Linked DNA regions of Homo sapiens: regions 2 and 3 are each linked to region 1. Evidence: fine-mapped expression QTL. A gene starts in region 1. Each other region holds a variant in brackets. All regions are shown on one strand. Distances are between the middles of the regions.

The links. PIP is the estimated chance that this variant, and not a neighbour inherited with it, causes the effect.
Region 2: its variant is fine-mapped to the expression of PIGZ in lymphoblastoid cells (TwinsUK, PIP 0.95).
Region 3: its variant is fine-mapped to the expression of PIGZ in whole blood (TOPMed, PIP above 0.99).

Annotation. Positions count from the first base shown.
Region 1 is chr3:196,964,018-196,973,316 of GRCh38, reverse strand. PIGZ (phosphatidylinositol glycan anchor biosynthesis class Z (Gwada blood group)) reads left to right here and starts at 4,484. Exons shown (of 3, transcript NM_025163.4): 1 at 4,484-4,630. LOC124906255 (collagen alpha-1(I) chain-like) reads right to left here and starts at 4,184. Exons shown (of 3, transcript XM_047449439.1): 1 at 4,068-4,184; 2 at 3,105-3,921; 3 at 1,506-3,016. The coding sequence starts at 4,184. The coding sequence ends at 3,106. RefSeq lists silencers at 3,145-3,364, 3,375-3,694, 3,805-3,864, 3,975-4,034, 4,045-4,254 and 1 more and enhancers at 3,300-3,835, 3,836-4,371, 4,372-4,907.
Region 2 is chr3:196,890,888-196,895,887 of GRCh38, reverse strand. All of the region lies in intron 2 of SENP5 (SUMO specific peptidase 5), which reads right to left. Among named protein-coding and RNA genes, the nearest start is that of SENP5, 25 kb to the right of the region's middle. The variant G/TG (reference allele first, on the strand shown) is at 1,979.
Region 3 is chr3:196,940,340-196,948,299 of GRCh38, reverse strand. NCBP2AS2 (NCBP2 antisense 2 (head to head)) reads right to left here and starts at 5,626. Exons shown (of 1, transcript NM_001355243.2): 1 at 4,757-5,626. The coding sequence starts at 5,583. The coding sequence ends at 5,284. It overlaps PIGZ (phosphatidylinositol glycan anchor biosynthesis class Z (Gwada blood group)), which reads left to right. Exons shown (of 3, transcript NM_025163.4): 3 at 1-1,944. The coding sequence ends at 1,143. NCBP2 (nuclear cap binding protein subunit 2) reads left to right here and starts at 5,772. Exons shown (of 4, transcript NM_007362.5): 1 at 5,772-5,874. The coding sequence starts at 5,797. NCBP2-AS1 (NCBP2 antisense RNA 1) reads right to left here. Exons shown (of 3, transcript NR_046630.1): 2 at 7,158-7,326; 3 at 5,766-5,907. RefSeq lists enhancers at 1-216, 3,745-4,418, 5,169-5,328, 5,093-5,766, 5,549-5,848 and 3 more. The variant C/A (reference allele first, on the strand shown) is at 2,959.

The DNA of each region.
Region 1 (9,299 bases):
CTGAGGCAGGAGAATCAGGCAGCAGTACCGTCCAGCTTCAGCTCGGCATCAGAGGGAGACCGTGGGGAGAGGGAGAGGGCGAGGGCGAGGGCGAGGGCGAGGGCGAGGGAGAGGGAGACAATGAGACTCCATCTTAAATAAATAAATAAATAAATAAATAAATAAGACCCTTGATTCTTACCTCACACCACCCATAAAGTTAGTTTGAGTGTATCATAGACCTAAACAAAAAGCCAAAACTATACAATTCTAGAAGAAAATATAGGAGAAAATATTTGCAACCTTACCTTAAGGTAGGCAATCAAGGAAAATGTTTAATAAATTGGACGCTGTCACAATTAGAAACTTTGGCTCTTTGAAAGATAACATTAGGAAAATGAAAAAACAGGTGGGTGTGGTGGCTCACACCTGTATTCCCAGCATTTTGGGAAGCTGAGGCAGTAGGATCACTTGAGCCCAGGAGTTCAAGACCAGCCTGGGCAACATAGCGAGATCTCATCTCTACTAAAGATAAAAAATTGAAATAAAAATAATTAGCCAGGCATAGTGGCGTGTGCCTATCATCCCAGCTACTCAGAAGGCTGAGGTGGGAGGATCACTTGAGCCCAGGAGTTCGAGATTGCATTTAGCTACAATTATACCACTGCACTGCAGCCTGGGAGACAGCATGAGACCCTGTCTCATGGAAAAAAAGAAAATGAAAAGACAAACCATAGAATGCTATGGGCTCTCATGCATTGCTGGTGGTAATGTCAAATAGTATGACCACTTTGAAAAACAATTTCTTACCATGCTGCCAGGCGCAGTGGCTCAAACCTGTAATCCCAGCACTTTGGGAGGCCAAGGCGGATGGATCACAAGGTTAGGAGTTCAAGACCAGCCTGACCAACATGGTGAAACCCCATCTCTCCCAAAATACAAAAATTAGTTGGGTGTGGTGGCGCAAGCCTGTAATCCCAGCTACTCAGGAGACTGAGGCAGGAGAATCACTTGAACCCAGGAGACGGAGGTTGCAGTGAGCCAAGATTGCACCACTGCACTCCAGCCTGGGCGACAGAGCGAGACTCCATCCCAAAAAAAAAAAAAAAAAAAAAAGTCTGGGTGTGGTGGCTCACGCCTGTAATCGCAGCACTTTGGGAGGCCGAGGCGGATGGATCACGAGGTCAGGAGATCGAGACCATCCTGGCTAACACAGTGAAACCCTGTCTCTGATAAAAATACAAAAAAAATAGCCGGGCTTGGTAGCAGGCGCCTGTAGTCCCAGCTACATGGGAGTCTGAGGCAGGAGAATGGCCTGAACCCGGGAGGCGGAGCTTGCAGTGAGCTGAGATGGTGCCGCTGCGCTCCAGCCTAGGCTACAGAGCAAGACTCCGTCTCAAAAAAATTAATTAATTAATTAATTAAATAAATTTTTTTAAAAAAAGACTCACCATGCAACCAAGCCATCCCGCCTACTTCCAGGCATTTTATCCGAGAGAAATGAAACATATGTATATTCAAAAAACTTTCTAGGAAGGCTCAAGTCAGTTTTATTCACAATGCCTTCAAACTGGAAACAACCCAGACATCCAACAACAACCCCGCATCCTCCTTTGGGGTCCTGAGAGGGTGCCTCCCCACCAGCCCAGCTTGGCCAACTTTAGTCCATCCATCAATGTCCAAATGGACAAACAGCCTGTGGCATATCCATACAATGGAATACTACTCACCAGTGGTAAGGAGGGAACTTGATACACACTTTAGTAAATACCTGAAATTTTAGGTTGCTTCAGTATCCATTTTGAATATAGGGTTAACAATTTCATACTAGAAGCAGGGCTTAGTCACCTTGGATACAGTTTCCAGCTCTCTGCTGGAAACAGTATCTCAACACATTCCGTCCAGATATCTGGTCCTAGGTAGCCACCTCCTGGTAACTGCCTCCTTGTGGGATGTATACATACAACCAACTAGACTCACCCCACTGACGCCCACACCCTGCATGGACTATGCAGATATGTCTCAGTGACCACCCCTAAGTCACAAGGTGGCCCCACAGGACTCCAGTTCGCTCCTCTAGGTGAACCAATTAGAGCTCCCCTTGGGAAAACTGCTTGAGTAATGCCCTGCACTCCAATAAAAGCCTCAGCCCACAGGTCCGTCTCTCTCTGGCTCCCCCCACCCCCACAACGATTGTGTACAGTGTCCCCAAGACATTCCCGACGGCCCTCAGTGTGCCCTCTTCCCCTGTGGATCTGTAAGTAATAGGACCACTTCTGTTAGTTCCTGTGTTTCGTTGTGTTGCCTGCTCTGTGTCATGCCTGACTGAGACGCTCAAACGTAACGTTTTCCCTGGTCAGGGCTTTCCCTAGAGAGCAGCTATCTTGGTAGGAATAAACTAGATACAGGTCAGACAAGAAGCACAAGGAGATCTGCCAGGATAAATATGTCTCCTGGGAGAGGGACACCCGGTCACAGGTCAGCCAGGATACAGAGGTGCCCCATGAAAGGCCCACGGCAAACACCCACGCCCAAATCCCAGGAGCCCTGTCAGGGCAGAGTTGGCCTTTACAGTGGCTCTCCAGGGAGGTCTCAAGACCAAGGTAGAGGAAAATACAACACACACACGCCACACGGGCGACGCTCAGCTGCATGGTGCCAAGCGAAGAAAGCCAGGCACAAAAGACCACACGGTGAATGGTTCTCCTTGCATGCAATTGCGAGAGAGGCAAAGGGCAGTGACAGAAATCAGAGGAGCAGTTGTCTGGAACCAGGGCGGAGGGGAGGTGAGGGGTTAGCTGCAGAGGGGCAGGAGGGTACTTTTGGGAGGAGAGGACTTCTTGAACTCGGGGGGAGACTAGCCTGGTGGTTTCGCGTGTCAGAAGTCATGGAACTGAGCCGGGCATGGTGGCGGGGCCTGTGGTCCCAGCTGCTCGGGAGGCTGAGGCAGGAGGATCGCTGGAGCCTAGAAGTTCAAGGCTGCGGTGAGCCGAGATCGTGCCACCGCACTCCAGCCTGGGCGACAGAGACCCTGTATCTAAAAAATAAAGGAAAAAATTCATGGAACTGTATACTTCCATGTACTGTACTTAAATTTCCTGGTATTTATCGTATGTATAGAATACCTCACATCTTAATAAAGTCGTCGTTTTTAGTGTGAGGGGTGCTATGGGGCACGGAGGGCGATCCGGCTGCCGACCCTCGGCGGCGGCGCGGGAGTGCGAGGCCGGCGGGGAGGTCGGGTCCTGCGGCCTCGCCGGGGCCCCTGCAGCGCTCTCCCGCCAGGGGGCAGCGTCGGGCCGGCGGCGCGGGCGGGAAGCTCCAGCGGCCGGGACGCGGTGGTGCCGTCTTCCCCCTGCGGTGAGGGACCGCGTCGCGCCACCCCGCTCTCAGCGCAGCCCGCAGCGGCGAGGCCACCGGGTGGGACACGGGTGCCCGCGCGTCGCGCCGCAGCTCGCGGGGACCTGGCGCCCCGTCCCGGGAGGGGATCTGGCCCCCGGGCGCCGGCTCTCCGTCCACGCGGCGTCCTCCCTGCAGCCCGCTAGGGCCGCTCGCCCGTCGCCGCCTGCGGAACGCGGAGGGGCAGCACGGCCACGCCCGGCCACTCGAACCTGCTCCCCGGCGCCGCGTGACCGTGTCAGGTCCCCGTCGGCCTCGCCGTGCCGACCCCGGGCGCCTCCACAGTGGCTCGGAGGCCGCTGCTGCCCGGATGCCCGGGTTCCACGAGGCTCTCCCAGCCCGACAAGCCCGCCGATCCCACGGGCACGGGCGGAGGAGAGGGAACCGCCGCGCCCGCCCCGCGCGCCGTCGCCGACCCCGGTGGGTCGCGCTTCCCCGCGCACGCCGCGCTCTGGCGCGGGGAGAGGCCCCTCGGGGTCCGCCCGGGTCAGCGTCCCGCGGGGGTGGCGGCCGTTCGCTCAGCCTCCTCTCGACTTCCCTTTCCTGTCAGGGCTGCTGGGGCTGACAGGCTCCCGGGCAACCACGCCGGGGAACCCCTCACGCCCGCCGATCGCTGCGGGGCTCAGCAGCCGCCCCGTGCGCTGAGTCCCCTGTCATGAGTGACTCCATTGCGAGGCGTTTCGGGCCACGAAGCAGGACCGGGGGCCGCACTCCGGGTCCCCGCCCTGCCCTCGCCGACCTCCCGCGCGTGGAAGGGGGACGGCGGCGGCGGAGCTCCCCGCCACGGAGAACCCCGAAATGGTCATTTCGAACGAGAGGAGTGTGGCCTGGGGTGTCTGGTTTAACAGCCCCCCGCGCCGAAAGGCTGTTCGCCGAGGAGGGGCCGCCGGGGAGGGAGCCCGAGCGCGGCGGGGCGAGACCGGTCCCCGCCCGGCGTTGCCCGGCCCGAGGGACGGCGGCGCCCCCAGGACCCTCCCCAGCGCGGCCCCAGCTCGCTCCGGGACCGCGGGGCCAGGCCGGGCGGGAGCGCGGGGACGTACACGGCGGCCCCGCCCGCGCGCTCCTCCTCCCTCCCGGCCCGCCCTGCGCCGGCGGCGGCGGCCCCAGTCTCCGCGCTGCTGAGGCGCGCCCGGCCGCTCCCACGGCCTCCCCTCCGCCCTGCGGTCCCGCCGCCTCCGGGGCCTCCTGGGACCCTGGCCCTCGCCGGGCAGGACGCCGCCAGCGCTGAAGGCGCAGCCCGGAGGCCGCGCGGGTGAGTCGGTGCGCAGCCCCAGCGGCTCCAGAGGAGCGGGTGCGGGGAGGGCGAGCGGACCAAGTCGGCCGCGTTCCCACCTTGCGCGCAGCCGGGAGACCAGCAGGCCCAGCCTCTAGGGAGGAGGGCAGGGGAGCTGGGGGCCGCCCCCCGCATTCTCGCAGGCACCTGTCCCTAGGCCGGGGTCCGCTGGCTCGAAGCACTGACCCGCCCCGGACCTAGGGGGACGGAGGCAGCGGTGACATTTGCCCAGGAAGGGCGGCAGTGGGTAAACTCCACTCCAGGGCACGGGTCTGGGCGCAGGTTGAGGCCTGGGGTTGAATCTGCTTCTGCTAGAGGCCAGTGTTCTCAGGGAGGCCCATAACCCGACTGGGTCTCAGTTCCCCCTGGTATGAAACAGCAACAGGGCAAGAGGAGGAAACCATGCCACGCTGCAAAGCTCTGAGCACGAAGCCGAGAAGAATCTCGGCTCCCGGCCTCGGGGGCTGCACTTCGGGCCAGGCCTGCACTCCCAGGATAAGAGGATGGCCTCCTGCCCCAGGGGTGGCATGGGGGCGCGCAAAAAGCAAAGGTGACCCTGCCAGGGAGCACCCAGCGCTCCGGTTGGTGGTCATGGGGTCTTTGCGTGGGACTCACAGTGTGGCCGGGAAAGTTCTGTAATGAGGACATTTCTCATCATTCCTTCTTCTCAAAAGTCATTCGTCAGCCCCAGACACCTTTGCCTCGGAAAACTGAGAACTACTTTCAAAATCGTCAACACCCCCATCTCCTGCTACAGAGCGGAGTCCCCACTTTGCAGAGGCGCACTGCAAGGTCGCGGGTGGTTAAATGGTGCGCCCTCCTTGATGAAGATGCCTTGTTCTCTTTCACTCTCTATGTGTGTTTAATGTTGTGTGTTGCGTTCTCTGTGAAGCGAAGGATAAACACGGGCCCTTTCAGGCAACCGAAGGAAGAAGGCGGCCAGCATCAGATCTTCCCGTGCTTCAAGGTGGAGCACCCTGCAGGGCTTACTGCAGCGCTCAGGGTCAAAGTGAGGATGCAGTGCGGCACCAAAAGGCAAATGGACTCTGGAGAGCCACTCTCACCTTGTACCCCTGGAGTAGACCCCGAGGACTGGAGGACTGGAACAAGATCTTAGTCCTGAGGGCGGGAGAAGCAGCCTTTGGTGGTTGCACAGGGGCCCGGCTTTTCCCGAAGTCTTAAAGCCTGCTCCAAATGCCAGATTCAGACAAAGGGGCCGAACCTTGGGCCCGCCGCCTTCTCCCATAAGCGGCAACCCAGCAGCTTTGCCAGGAAGTTTACATGTGAAGGTACGGACCTTTCTTGGAATGAGCCACACCTGATGGCCCTGCCACTCCGGACGGCGCTCGTTCACGGCTGTCCCTGGAGCAGACACGGTTCTGCGCACACACCTGGGCGCCGGAGAAACAGGGCACCCAAAGCGGGCCCAGGCCCTCGGACTCAGCGAGCTGGACACGTGTCCCCATCACCCGCGGCTGGCGGGAGCAGTGTTTCTACTCCCTTCCCTCCCCTCCTCCCGCCCCGCAGATGTGCTGTCTTTCCCGGCCTCCCCCCGCGCCCAGCACAGTGGTTTCTGCTTGGCTGTTCCCCTGTCTCTGAGATGGTCTCTCCCTGCTGCTTGCCCTACACATTCTCCCACACAGGCGCGCGGGATGCCCCTGTCGGCGTGGTTGTCAATGCCTGCTCCCCTGCCCCCCAGTCCAATCTCCACGACTCTGGGCCCTGTCGCTTCATCCTAAAGCCTTCCGCTCACGAGCCCTCCCGACGACCGACCCCCAGGAGGCTACTGGAGATGCAGGATTTGGACCCGTGCTGGACCCGCACCCGGACAGATCCCTCTGAATGAATGAATGAATTAATGAGCAGGCTGCATCCTGATTAGGTTAAGGTGGGTGGTTGCCATGCTTGGCGTTGGCTCTGTCCCCTGGGATAAAAGGCGAGAGGCAGCCACATGGACAGCTCCTCCAGTGGGGTCTCAGACTGGAGAGACGCCAGCGGGCGGGGGTCGTTCCCTGGAGCTCCCGCATTTGTTATGGTCGATGCCCCACTACGTTGTCACCTTCTCCGGAGGACCTCCTGCTCTGTCCTTGACAGATGGGCCCCAGTGGGCCCACCCAGGCTGGAGATGAATCTCAAAGGGACTCCATGCCTGGGAGACCTCAGCCAAGCAGGGCAGAGAAATAATCAGACAACAGTCAGCGCATGGCGCCTGCAGAGTTTTGCACAGGGTCCTTCAGAAGGAGGGTTAGGGAAGACTTCTTGGGGGTTAGGGCAGTTAAGCAAGATGGATAAAGAAAGCAACCACTTATGTCTGCATATTTTCTTCATTTCATCTTCACAACAGCCCTGAGATAGGTACTTGTTTTAAAGCTGAGGTATAAATTGGGGTTCAGAGAGATTGAGTGCTTTCACCATGAACAAGTGACAGAGAGCAACGACTTGAACCGGGTTACCTGATGCCACCGCTGGTCTTAACCTCCATGTTATTAGCGTATTGGGTAAGTGAAACCGTGTGAGCCAAGAAGCTGGGGTGAGAAACAGCACGGAATAGAGGAGAGGGCTGCAGAAAGGCGTGATGTTTCTGGAGCACCGAATTCTACTCACGAACACAGGAGTGGAGGCGGGAAGGGGACACTGGAAGCTATGGAGGGCCTTGTCAGCCACAGTAAGGAATGTGGACCTGGTCCTCAGGGTGGTGAGGGGATGGCCCCCCATCCAGAGGTTTCTCACAGGGGAGTGATTCGGCCTGTCTCTGCCGCAGTCAGAAGGAAGGATGCAGTGAGAGAGGGAAAGTGGAGAGGCGGATGGCGGTGCAGTCTACTCCAGGTCATGCTTCTTACCATCTCCCTCATTATTCATCCACAGAAAATGATTGCTGTTATATGACACACTGGTTAACAAAGGAGGGGGCTGTTTGCAAACAGAAACAACCAACCCAGGGCCTCCAGCCATCCAAAGATTCTGCACAGCCAGCCACCCCTAAGGCTAAGAAATCCCAGGTACATGCACACCAGTCACAGCATACCTGGACTCAGACAATGACAGTGGAGAATGAGGAACAAGAGCTGGGTTCAAGGAATAATTAGCAAGCAACGTTGGCATTACGTAGTGCAGGGACAAAGGAGGAGGGAGATAGCCCGTGGGATTCTGGACTAAATTGGGCAAATGGTATGACATGGTTAGGCTTTTGTGTCCCCGCCCCAATCTCATCTTGAATTGTAATCCCCAAGTGTTGAGGGAAAGACCCGGTGGGAGAGGATCGGATCATGGGGTGGTTTCCCCCACGCTGTTCTTCGGATAGTTAGGGAGTTCTCATGAGATCTGATGGTTCCATAAGCGTCCGTCATTTCCTCCACTCACACTCTCTCTTGCCACCTTGTGAAGAGGTGCCTGCTTCCCCTTCCGCTATGACTGTAAGTTTCCTGAAACTTCCCCAGCAATGTAGAACTGTGAGTCAATGAAACCTCTTTTATTTAGAAATTGCCCAGTCTTGGGCAGTTCTTTATAGCAGTGTGAGAATAGATTAACACAGTAAATTGGTACCAGGAGTGTGGGACACTAATACATGGTAGTTTCCTCATTGCTGTAGGGAGCATGGGGACAGGGCTCATTCCAGGGAAGGTGATGAGTTCTTTTGGGCTGCCCTGTGTTTGAAGCAGGTACAGAAGCCTAACGGGCAGTGGAGCAGGGCAGTGGAGTCAAACAGACCGGGTCCATCTTCCAGCTCCACCAACTTAGTAGTTCCGTTACCTTTTGCAAAAAGCCTGTTCATTTGTGTGTAAGACAGGGATAAGAATAGGTTCATAGAGGCTGAGGTGGGAGGATTGCTAGAGCCTGGGAGGCAGAGGTTGCAATGAGCTGAGATCATGCCACTGCGCTCCAGCCTGGGTGACAGAGTGAGACCCTGTCTTAAAAAACAAAAAAAAGGATAGGGTTATAGACTTCCCATAATTAAATAAGATAAGGTACAAAGCCTGGAAGGTAATATGTATCTAATAAATGGCAGTGCTAGACTGGGCACGGTGGCACACGCCTGTAATCCCAGCACTTTGGGAGGCCGAGGCAGGTGGGTCATGAGGTAGGAGTTTGAGACCAGCCTGGCCAAGATGGTGAAACCCCATCTCTACTAAAAATACAAAAATTAGCCAGGCGTGGTGATGCGTGCCTGTAGTCCCAGCTACTTAGGAGGCTGAGGCAGAAGAATCGCTTGAACCTGGGAGACAAAGGTTGCAGTGAGCCAAGATCGTGCCACTGCACCTAGCCTAGGCGACAAGCAAGACTCCATCTCAAAAAAATTAAAAAAAAATGGTAGTGCTAGGCCGGGCACGGTGGCTCATGCCTGTAATCCCAGCACTTTGGGAGGCCGAGGTGGGCGGATCACGAGGTCAGGAGATCGAGACCATCCTGGCTAACATGGTGAAACCTCGTCTCTACTAAAAATGCAAAAAATTAGCCGGCCTGGTGGCAGTCGCCTGTAGTCCCAGCTACTTGGGAGGCTGAGGTAGGAGAATGGCGTGAACCCGGGAGGTGGAGCTTGCAGTGAGCTGAGATTGCACCACTGCACTCCAGCCTGGGCGACAGAGTGAGACTCCGTCTCAAAATAAATAAATAAATAAATAAAAATAAAAATAAAAGCAAACAAATAAAA
Region 2 (5,000 bases), 75 kb after region 1:
GCAAGTACAAAAGGTAGTAATATAAAAAACAAAACCTGAGGTGTCATTTTAGAATTTAAAGTACCCGGCCAGGCACGGTGGCTCATGCCTGTAATCCTAACACTTTGGGAGGCTGAGACAGAAGGATTGCTTAAGCTCAGAAGTTCAAGACCAGTCTGGGCAACAAAGTGAGACCGCTTCTCTACAAAAAATACAAAAATTAGCCAAGCATGTTGGCACATGCCTGTAGTCCCAGCTACTCGGGAGGGTGAGGTGGGAGGATGGGTTGAGCCTGGGAGGCAAAGACTGCAGTGAGCCAAGATCCCACCACGGCACTCCAACTTGGGCAACAGAACGAGACCCTGCCTCAAAAATAACTGAAAAAATAAAAAAGAACTTTTTAAAAAAAAGAAGTTAAAGTAAGGCCGGGCGCGGTGGCTTACGCCTGTAATCCCAGCACTTTGGGAAGCCGAAGCGGGTGGATCACGAGGTCAGGAGATCGAGACCATCCTGGCTAACATGGTGGAACCCTGTCTCTACTAAAAAATACAAAAAATTAGCCGGGCATGGTGGCGGGCGCCTGTAGTCCCAGCTACTCGGGAGGCAGGAGAATGGCGTGAACATGGGAGGCGGAGCTTGCAGCGAGCTGAGATTATGCCACTGCACTCCAGCCTGGGTGACAGAGTAAGACTCCGTCTCAAAAAAAAAAAAAAAAAAAGAAGTTAAAAGTAGCCATCATGTTAAACTAACGGCACTGGACAGTTTTCGTTTGATGCAACTGACCTGGGTCACATTCCACCCTGGATGTGGAATGAGGTTCCCCGTGCTGTGCACGTAAGAAATGCAAGCACATGGTTCTCCAACAAAACACAGTGCATACCTCAGAACGGGCCCATCAGCAGTAAGGAAGGTATACAGTATCTAAGAACAAACATAAGCAATGCGCAAAACCTAAGTGAAAAGATGCGAAATATGACTAAGGGACAGGAAGTCTTTTGCAATGAAAGCAACTGTCCCTAAATTAATCTATAAATATAATGCAACAACAAGTAAAAACCATACTTTTTTAAAAGATTACAAAATAAATCCAAAATTTACCTTGGGACAAAAATGTGAGAAATTCCTAGAAATTTTTGAAAAGAATTAAAGGAGAGAGGTGAATAAGGAGCGCCAGGTCCTGTCAAATGATAAAACTACGCTAATTAAGGCAAATAGAGCCAGCATGGAATAGAGATCAAATCCAAAGAGACTCTGTGGTAGGTTGCATTTCTGAACCACAGGGAAAAGAGCAAATCACTCAATAAACAGTATTAGAACTACCAACTAATTTCATTGGTTCCCAGACCCATGGGAATAAATTTAAAAAAAAAAAAAGAACTCGCAACTAAATATTTTATTAACAGCTGGAATTCATTTTGGTGTAAAGAATGAGGTAAGGATCTACCTTAACTTTTTTCCAAAGCACTAAATTAAAAATAACACATTAGGCCGGGGGCAGTAGCTCACATTTGTAATCCCAGCACTTTGGGAGGATAAGGCGGGCGGATCACCTGAGTTTGGGAGTTTGAGACAAGCCTGACCAACATGGAGAAACCCTGTCTCTACTAAAAATACAAAATTAGCCGGGCGTGGTGGCGGGCACCTGTCATCCCAACTAATCGGGAGGCTGAGGCAGGAAAATTGCTTGAACCCAGGAAGTGGAGGCCACCGTGAGCCGAGATCACGCCACTGCACTCCAGCCTGGGCAACAAGATCAAAACTCTGTCTCCAGAAAAAAAAAAAAAAAAAAAAACCACATTAATATCTAGAAAAAAAGAGTTGGACATTTTTATAAACATTTACTTTATATGTGGAAACAACCTTTTAAGTAGTTATTTTTTCTCATACACGACCATAAATATTTTTAAATAAATGGCAGTGAGCCCATAATTCCTTCTGGACTTTCAAGCCCTTTGAACATGTATTTCTTAAACACACTAAATTTTTTTTTTTTTTTTTT[G/TG]AGACAGAGTCTCACTCTGTCACCCAGGCTGGAGTGCAGTGGTGCGATCTCAACTCACTGCAACCTCCAACTCACAAGTACAAGCAATTCTCCTGTCTCAGCCTCCCAAGTAGCTGGGACTACAGGCGCATGCCACCATGCCTGGCTAATTTTTGTATTTTTAGTAGAGACGGAGTTTCACCATATTGGTCAGGCTAGTCTTGAACTCCTGACCTCAGGTGATCCACCCACCTCGGCCTCCCAAAGTGCTGGGATTACAGGCATGAGCCACCGCGCCCGGCCTAAACTTACTCTTCTTGAAGCTGCTTTTTTCCATTCACTATATCATGGACAGTTCTCTTTTGCCTGAAAAAATGCATACTGTATTGTAACCAATTCCCTACTGATGGCCATTTATTTTTACCTCTAAATAATGTAACAATTAAAACTCTTGATCTATCCTAGTTCTACTGTTTCCCTTGGACACACCTACTACAAGTTAAATTTCTGGGTAAAAGGGCATGCATATCTAAATTTTTAAATTTTCATCTAACTTTTGCTATACACACACACATGCACACAAGATTTAAATGTCTGTAGAGTCAATTTGGTATATTTTCATTGCTTCTGAGCTTCCTATTATGGGCAAAAATGTCTTATCAATATAAGATTATAAAAATGGTCTCCTGCTCAAACAACGAATAGCAAGAACATAACCCAATTTAAAAAGCAGGCAAAGGACTTGAATGTGGAGAAAGGGGAACCCTGTACACTGTTGGTGGGAATGTGAATTAGCACAGCCATGAAGGAAAACAGTATACAGGTTCCTCAAAAAATTAAAAATAGAACTACCATATGATCCAGCAATTCCATTTCTGAGTGTATTTCAAAGACAATAAAATCAGTGTGTTGAAGAGGTACCTGCACCCCATACTCACTGCGGCACTATCCACAATAGCCAAGACATGGCATCAACCTCAATGCCCATGAGTGGATGAATGGAGAAAGAAAATGTAGTATATATACACAATGGAATACAATTCAGCCTTAAAACATCCTGTCATCTGCAACATGGATGAATCTGGAGCATAATATGTGAAATATGCCAGACACAAAAAAATATACTGCATGATCTCACTTACATGTGGAATCTAAAGTCAAACTCATAGACGTAGAGAATCAACGGTAGTTACCAGGGGCTGGGGGTGGGGCAGAGAATTGGAAGATGTTGGTCAAGGGTCATAAAGCTTCCGTTAGACAGGAGGAAGTGGTCCTAGAGATCTATTGTACAGTCTGGTGACTATAGTTAATAATAATGTACTGTGTCTTGAAAATAGATGAGAATTGATTTTAAATGTTCTCACGACGAAGTGAGTGATGGATATGCTGATTATCTTGATTTACTTCACAAAGTAAACATATATCAAAACATCACATTGTACCCCATAAATATATAGAATTTTGTCAATTAAAAATAATCTTTAGGTCAGGCACAGTGGCTCATGCCTGTAATCCCAGCACTTTGGGAGGCTAAGCCGGGCGGATCACTTGAGGTGAGGAGTTCAAGACCAGCCTGGCCAACATGGTGAAACCCCATCTCTACTAAAAATACAAAAAATTAGCCAGGCATATAGTGGCGCACCTCTGTGGTCCTGGCTACTCCAGAGGCTGAGGCACGAGAATCGCTTGAACCCGGGAGGCGGAGTTTGCAGTGAGCTGAGATCACGCCTCTGCACTCTAGCCTGGGAGACAGAGGGAGACTCTGTCACAAACAAAGAAACCAAAAACTTAAAAAGAATGATTTCCTGTATTTTTTTTTTCTTTTTTTAAGAGTCAAGGTCGGCCGGGCGCGGTGACTCACGCCTGTAATCCCAGCACTTTGGGAGGCTGAGGCAGGTGGATCATGAGGTCAGGAGATTGAGACCATCCTGGCTAACACAGTGAAACCCCGTCTCTACTAAAAATACAAAAAATTAGCCGGGCGTGGTGGCACATGCCTATAGTCCCAGCTACTCCGGAGGCTGAGGCAGGAGAATCGCTTGAACCCAGAAGGCAGAGGTTGCAGTAAGCAAAGATCACGCCACTGCACTCCAGCCTGGGAGAAAGAGTGAGACTCCGTCTCAAAAAAAAGAGAGAGACAAGGTCTTGCTGTCACCCAGCGTGGAATGCAGTCGAGCTACCATAGCTCACTTCAACCTCAAACTCCTGGCTTCAAGCAGTCCTCCCACCTCATCCATCTGAGGAGCTGGGACTACAGGCATGCACCACCACATGCAGATAATTTTATTTTTTGTAGCAATAGAGTCTCGCTAAATCTATATACATCCCTCTATGTATTTATATCGCTATGTTGCCCAGGCTGGTCTCAAACTCCTGCCCTCAAGCGATCCTTCTGCCTCAGCCTCCTAAAGTGCTGGGATTACAGATGTGAGCCACCATGGCCGGCCTATATTTGTTTCTTTTTAACAGCTTTATTGAGATGTGATTCACACACCACAAAATTTGCCCCATTAAAGAACACAATTCACTGTTTTTTAATATATTCAGATTGTGTAACTATCACTACTACCTAATTCCAGAACACCTCCATTACCCCACAAAGAAACTCTATACCCATTAACAGTCACCTCTCATTCCCCTTCTTCCCAGCTCCTGGCAACTATTAATCTACTTTATATCTCTATGTATTTGCCTATTCTGGACATTTCAAATGAACGAAATCATATGTTATAAGGCCTTTTGTGTCTGGCTTTTCACTTAGCATGCTTCCAAGGTGCATCCACATTTAAGTATATATCGGTGTTTATTCCTTTTATAGAATAATATTCCATTGTATAGATATACCAAATTTTATTTATCCATTCATCAGGTGTTGAACATTTAGGTTGTTTTCACTTTCTGGATATTATGAACAATGCTGTTACAAGCATTCGTGTACACATTTCTGTGTATTTGGTTTTAATTAGCCAAACTTTTAATCCATCTGGAATGTTTTGCGGCACAGGAATCTATCCCTTTTCCCTCCAAAAGAAGTAACCATCCA
Region 3 (7,960 bases), 24 kb after region 1:
CCTACACGCAAGGAGCCGGCGCCGGGTCCACGGTGGCGCAGCTGGCTTCTTGGAGGCATTGTGGCTGCTGGCTTCTTCAACCGGCCCACCTTTCTGGCCTTTGCTGTGGTCCCCCTCTACCTCTGGGGCACTCGTGGAGCCACAAACCCTGGTTTGAAGTCTCTGACCCGGGAGGCCCTGGTGCTGCTCCCTGGGGCAGCCCTCACAGCAGCGGTGTTTGTGGCCACGGACAGCTGGTATTTCTCCAGCCCCGCTACATCCAGGAACCTTGTCCTGACACCTGTCAACTTCTTGCACTACAACCTGAATCCCCAAAACCTGGCGAGACATGGCACGCACGCGCGGCTCACTCACCTGGCAGTCAACGGCTTCCTGCTCTTCGGGGTGCTGCATGCCCAGGCCCTGCAGGCTGCGTGGCAACGGCTGCAAGTCGGCCTCCAGGCCTCTGCACAAATGGGCCTCCTGAGGGCACTGGGTGCCCGGAGCCTGCTGTCCAGCCCCAGGTCCTATCTCCTTCTCCTCTACTTCATGCCTCTGGCCCTGCTATCTGCCTTTAGCCACCAGGAGGCTCGGTTCCTGATTCCCCTCCTGGTCCCCCTGGTCCTGCTTTGTAGTCCACAGACGCAGCCTGTGCCTTGGAAGGGCACTGTGGTCCTCTTCAACGCCCTCGGTGCCCTCCTCTTCGGCTGCCTGCATCAGGGGGGCCTGGTGCCTGGCCTGGAGTACCTGGAGCAGGTGGTCCATGCCCCTGTGCTCCCAAGCACACCCACCCACTACACACTCCTCTTCACTCACACCTACATGCCCCCCCGGCACCTCCTACACCTCCCAGGCCTGGGGGCACCAGTGGAGGTGGTGGACATGGGGGGGACTGAGGACTGGGCCCTGTGCCAAACCCTGAAAAGCTTCACCAGACAACCAGCCTGCCAAGTGGCTGGTGGGCCATGGCTCTGCCGCCTCTTTGTGGTAACCCCTGGCACCACCAGGCGTGCCGTGGAGAAGTGCAGCTTCCCCTTCAAGAATGAAACACTTTTATTTCCCCATCTGACCCTGGAGGATCCACCAGCCCTGTCCTCCTTGCTGAGTGGGGCTTGGAGGGACCACCTCAGTCTTCACATTGTGGAGCTGGGGGAAGAAACCTGACAATATGACAGAGCACCCACTGCCCAAGACTCAGCCATAGAAGATGCCGCCCCACCTTCTACTTGGGTAGCTGGGCTGGGACGCTGGGACAGGACCCCGTCCTCCTTCATGACTCCCACTGCTGCCTCTCCTGGGCATGGCTGTTAGCTGTTCTGCCTTCTGGGTGAGCTGGCACTCTTCTCCCTGAGACCAAAGATTTGACCTGTCGGTCTTGATGTCAAGGTCCCCAAAGACCAGGTTAAGTGACGACACCTGTCTGTTCCTGCCCTGTTGCTTCCAGCCACTGTGATGTTTGAAATATGTGATAGTACCTGGTTGTGAAAAAAGACAATGAACTGCTAGTGACATTCCTCAATGACCTCTCCCAAACCTCCCATGATGCCTTACCCTTGCTGTCATGACAACCCTCTGGCTTCCTAAGACCCATCTGCCTATCGAAATATGTGCAAGTCAGTGAGACGAAGTATAGAGAACAGGTGGCCCAGATCCAGGGGACCCAACTTCTGGCCCCTTGGTCTGTCACCTCCTCGCTGTGTGATCTTGAGAAAGCTCCTTCCACTCACCCACCCCACTTCCCAGTCTGTTGGGATCAGAGGAACTTTGAGGTGTCTGCCGGCTAACATTGTGTCATTCCTGGAGTCCACAGTACACGTCCCCTGCCTCAACAGGCACAGCTCTCACAAAGCTCTTCAAGCATGGAAGTGGGAGTTGTGTTGTACTTCATGGCACTCTGATGCCTGCTGTCTCAGTGTTTGGTTATTATGCAAACAAGTAATGTTTGAAATATATAATAGCACTGGAGATTTTCTCCCTACTTTCTTTTACTCCTGTTCCTGAGAGGTGGTGGGAAACTCTCCAGCCATTTCTGCACCTTGTCCTTAAGAGTCATTCTCCTGGCTGGGCATGGTGGCTCACACCTGTAATCTCAGTACTGAGAGGCCAAGGTAGGCAGATCTCGAGGTCAGGAGTTCAAAACCAGCCTGGCCAACATGGTGAAACCCCATCTCTACTAAAAATATAAAAATTAGCCAGGCGTGGTGGCACGCACCTGTAATCCCAGCTACTCAGGAGGCTGAGGCAGGAGAATTGCTTGAACCCAGGAGGCAGAGGTTGCAGTGAACCGAGAGCCACTGCATTCCAGCCTGGGAGACAGAGCAAGACTCCGTCTTGGGGGAAAAAAAAAAAAAGGGGGTCATTTTCCCAGATTAGGGAGCCAGGTGTTCTTCCTCCTTAGAACTGTGGGTCTCAAGCCCTCCCATCCTGCCCCAGAGGGCAGAGAACACACAACACTCAGCTAGTGTCTGGTTACCAGCCTCAATTTTTCCGATGGCTTCAAGCTTTCTAGATTGCATGATTAACTGTGCTGCCTAACTAGAAATGATCAGAGCTGGGTGTGGTGGCTCACACCAGTAATCCCAGCACTTTGGGAGGCGGAAGCAGGAGAACTGCTTGAGGCCAGGAGTTCAAGACCAGCCTGGGCAACAAAGTGCAATGCCATTTCAACCAAAAACAAAACAAAACAAAATTGTGGCTGGGCGCGGTGGCTCACACCTGTAACCCCAGCACTTTGGGAGGCCGAGGTGGGCAGATCACAAGGTCAGGAGATCGAGACCATCCTGGCCAACGTGGTGAAACTCCGTTTCTACTAAAATACAAAAAATTAGCCAGGCATGGTGGCACGCACCTGTAGTCCCAGCTGCTCAGGAGGATGAGGCAGGGGAATCACTTGAACCCGGGAGGTGGAGGTTGCAGTGAGCCGAGATCGCACCACTGCACTCCAGCCTGGTGACAGAGTAAGGCTCCGTCTCAAAAAAA[C/A]AAAAAAAACAGAAAAAAAGTTTTTAATTAGCTGGGCATAGTGTCATGGGCCCGTAATCCCAGCTACTTGGGAGTCCCAGGGAGGAAGATCGCTTGGCCCAACGGGTCGAGGTTGCAGTGACAGCTAGTATTGTGCCACTGCACTCCAGCCTGGGCAAGAGTTAGGTCCTGTCTCAAAAAAAAAATCAGAAATTTAGCTAGGAGCTTCAAATGACAGGACATTTCTATATACAATGGATTTCCTAATCGCAGGTCTGCTAACTGGCTGGATCGTAGTCTGTCTGTATCCCTGACCCTCTAAAATGAGGGGTAGTGAAGGGGTGGGTTGCCCCTCCACACCTGTGGGTGTTTCTCGTTAGGTGGAAGGAGAGACTTGGAAAAGAAAGAGACACAAAGTATAGAGAAAGAAAAAAGGGAGCCCAGGGGGCCGGCATTCAGCAGACGAGGATCCCGCCGGCCTCTGAGTTCCCTTAGTATTTATTCATCATTCTTGGGTGTTTCTCGGAGAGGGGGATGTGTCAGGGTCATAAGATAATAGTGGAGAGAAGGTCAGCAGATAAACACGTGAACAAAGGTCTCTGTGTCATAGACAAGGTAAAGAACTAAGTGCTGTGCTTTAGATATGCATACACATAAACATCTCAATGCCTTACAGAGCAGTATTGCTGCCCCCATGTCCCACCTCCAGCCCTAAGGCGGTTTTCCCCTAACTCAGTAGATGGAACATACAATCGGGTTTTACACCATTGCCCAGGGACGGGCAGGAGACAGATGCCTTCCTCTTGTTTCAACGGCAAAGAGGCGTTCCTTCTTCTTTCACTAATCCTTCTCAGCACAGACCCTTTACGGGTGTCACGCTGTGAGGGACGGTCAGGTCTTTCCCTTCCCACGAGGCCATATTTCAGACTATCACATGGGGAGAAACCTTGGACAATACCTGGCTTTCCTAGGCAGAGGTCCCTGTGGGCTTCCGCAGTGTTTGTGTCCCTCGGTACTTGAGATTAGGGAGTGGTGATGACTCTTAACGAGCATGCTGCCTTCAAGCATCTGTTTAACAAAGCACATCTTGCACCGCCCTTAATCCATTTAACCCTGAGTGGACACAGCACATGTTTCAGAGAGCAGGGGGTTGGGGGTGGGGTTACAGATTAACAGCATCTCAAGGCAGAAGAATTTTTCTCAGTACAGAACAAAATGGAGTCTCCTATGTCTACTTCTTTCTACACAGACACAGTAACAATCTGATCTCTCTTTTCCCCACAGGATAGGAGTCCAGGTAACTTGTTCCATGGCAGGCAGTAGTCTTTTTTTTTTTTTTTTTTTTTTTTGAGAAAGGTTCTCGCTATGCTACCCAGGCTGGTCTCATCTCAGGCTCATGCGATCCTCCTGCCTCTGCAGTGGCTGGGATAAGACACAACTGCCACCAGGCCCTGCCCCTAGGCAGTAGTCTTAATGCCTGATGGTGGGGGGTTGGGGAAGGAAGGGGTTGAGTATCAGGGTAAATGCTGCAGAGCTGTGTTAAGGACTTAGGCCCTGGAGTCAAATGCCTCTGCTCACATCCCACTCTGCAAGACTTTGGGCAACTTAAGCAGCAGCCTCTGTTTCCATCGCAGTGGCTCTTGCCTATAATCCCAGCACTTTGGGAGGCTGAGGCGGGAGGATCACTTGCGCCCAAGAGTTCGAGACCACCCCATCTCTACAAAAAAATCCAAAAAGTAATCTGCTTCCTCATGTGAATGTCGTTGTAAGGAGTGAGATAACACATAGAGTGCAATGAGCAAGTCCCAGCACAGAAGACTCATTTCATAAAATACGTGTTTATTATTACCATAGGCCTACAGTCCCCGGTATTCTTAACACATCTTGCCTGAGAAGTATCACACTCATGCCTATCAACCAGCTCACACATTTAATCAAAGGAATTTGGCAGCTGTAGGGTTGTCTTTTCATCCATATCGTCCCTGGAATTAACTGTCCTGCTATACCAGTCAGATTGAGCAGCATCTGTCAAGAGTTTCAGTCCCACTTGCAGAGGAAAGGCTCTCTGGCTTCGGTCCGTGGCTCTCCGTAGGTGCCGTGTCTGGACCCAGCCTACCTTCATCTCTGTTAGGCTTAGGGCTGTCTCCACACTGTGTCTTGTCCAATCACAAGACTTCAACGGAGCGGGCGGTCTGGCCTAGGCTCTTATGCGTGGGATGTCTGCAGGCCAACAATCCCAGTCGGGATTCGAAGCCGCGCGCAGTGCCCGGAATGACCCCTCCACATTGATGCCACTGTAGAGCCCGGAAGGAAAAGCAAGCGGCCTCGGCCCCGCACAGCCCAGGATTAAATGTTTGCGCCAGGGCCCCTCTGGCTACCTGGTGGTGGCCCCGAGCGGCCTCGGAGGCCGCGGCGTAGCTCCTGGGTGAAGGCGTCTCTAAATCGCTCAGCGCGGCGGCACAGGGAGCCCACGGGCCCAGCCGCGAGGTCCTGCAGGCGGCGGGCCGCGTCCTGGCCCCGCAGCTGGGCCTGCAGCAGTGCGAAGGCCGTGAGCTGCGCCGCACGTCGGATAGGCCGCGACTCTGACAGACGTTCCACCAGCTGCGGGCTGTGCAGCAGGGCGGCCAGCAGCCGCCGCAGCACCATCTTCTCCAAGCGCCCGGAACCCGACCTCGCCGCCCTCGTCTTCCGCCCCGCGGCGCCCGACCCGGACGTCTATGCCCCCGCGCAGCTTGATGACGACACGCCGCCCTCGGATTGGGTCCAATGAGATGCTCGCCTCCGCGCGTTTCCGCTTCCGCCATCGCGGACGCAGCCTCGTGCCGGGAGTCGCCGCATTGTGGTCCGCTTCTCTGCACTATGTCGGGTGGCCTCCTGAAGGCGCTGCGCAGCGACTCCTACGTGGAGCTGAGCCAGTACCGGGACCAGCACTTCCGGGTGAGGGAGGCCGGGCCGCGAGACGGGAAGGCCCTGGGCAAGAACGCTGAGAAACGGTTTGCTCTTGTCTCATTGTGTCGCCTCCCATTCAGCTGAAATCCGCAAACGCCAAGTGGGGCCCCGGTGCCTGCTGGCGAGGCAGGGAATGGGTGCTGGAAGGGCGCTTGGATATCACTGAAGCCACTTGCTCTGGAAGACGGGGAACTGGAGGCTCGCTTATCCCATTCGCTCGCAGCCGCTCCCTGTACCCCAGCCAGTGCCGAGAGGTTTGAGCGGTGGTGGTGGTGGCGGCTCCCGTTTCCACGGTTGTGCCTCCGCAGACGACTACGTAGCAAGGGGGAGGGGTGCCCTTCTCTCTCCCAGAGTAGGCAGAGGCGCCTTCCTGATGCAGATGCGGGGCTTTTTGCTTTGTTTTTTAAATCGGCGAAGCAGTGCCCTTCGGCGATTCGGGCCCCTTCTCTGGGAGGATGGTGTTACGGAAGCTGTACGCGGTGCGTGGGAGACACAAGTGGAGTCCTCACTCCGCCCTCGGGGAAGCTTCGGAGTGGGGAGGTGGACCCGCCAAGCTCGGCACTTTGAGGGTGTTCGGATGTAAAGATCGGAGAATTGCTGGATTTCAGAAGAGGGAAATTTTTAGTCCGGACTATATCACAGTATATTTTGTGGAAAAAGGGGAGGCAGCAGATATTCAAAGTAGACTTTTCAGTATCAGCGGAGGTAGGGATGGAATACGGTTGGGGGTTGGCGGGGCGGGACTCATTAACCCAATTATTTAGTAAACGTTTATCGAGTGCTGTCGCCAAATCCTTGTGCTAAACCCTAGAGGGAGAGGGAAGACAGTTTCTGCGCTCTGCGAGCTCATAATCCCCTGTAGTGAGGATTCAGAAAAGGGAAAAATCCCCTTGTGACTGGGAAAGGAAGGGGCGCATATAGCAGAGGGTAAGTGTGGAGAATGTGTGAAATGTGTTACTAGAGTAGGGAAAGGGAAATTTTGTTTGACGCTAAATTAGGGAAGCTCTTAGATTTATTTAGTCAAGGCTGGGAACGGTGGCTCACGCCTGTAATCCCAGCACTTTGGGAGGCTGAGGCGGGTGGATCACGAGGTTAGGAGTTCAAGACTAGCCTGGCCAAGATGGTGAAACCCCGTCTTACTAAAAATACAAAAATTAGGCGGGCGTGGTGGCAGGCGCTTGTAATCCCAGCTATTCGGGAGGCTGAGGCAGGAGAATCGCTTGAACCGGGGAGGTGGAGGTTGCTGTGAGATCGCGCCACTGCACTCCAGCCTGGGCAACAGAGCGATATTCCTTCTCAAAAAAAAAAAATTTATTCAGTTAATGTATTTTATTTTTTGAGACAGAGTCTCGCTTTATTGCCTAGGCTGAAGTGCAGTGGCGCAATCACGGCTCACGCAGCCTCAACCTCCTGAGCCTAAGTGATCCTACCCACCTCAGCCTCCTGAGAAGCTGGGACCACAGGCTCGCGCCACCACATCCAGCTAATTTTTTGTAGAGACAGGGTCTCCCTGTGTTGCTCAGGCCAGTCTCGAACTCTGGGACTCAAGCGATCCACCTGCCTGGGGCTTCCCAAAGTGCTGGGATGCCTAAGTGCCAGGCATGATTTGCACTTCTACCACTTTTAGTTACTACTTTAGACAGTTCCACATCCTGACCATTTTGAACTTAAAGCATCCTGTGAGATGAAAACTGGAACCTTCTGACTTTGTCTATTATTCATCTCCTCAGTCTAAACCTGTAGCTTTTTTTAGATGCTAATGCCATACTGTCATGTGGAATTTCTAGCATTCTGTGAATGGAATCCATATTAATATACTTTAAGCACTTACACCACAGTTATCTTAAACTGTAGGCTATTTATTTGGATCTTACTTACATGTGTGAGAAAAGTAGAAAAAGAAGATGCCTCCTTTCCATGTTCACAAATCAGTAACAGCAGTAAAATGAAAGGAATTTACTTTCTCTAATGTCTCACTCCAAAGTTCCGAAAACCTCTTTTTAACATACAATGACTATTGTCCTGTGGACTTTTTTTTTTTGAGATAGAGTTTCACTCTTGTTGTCCAGGCTCA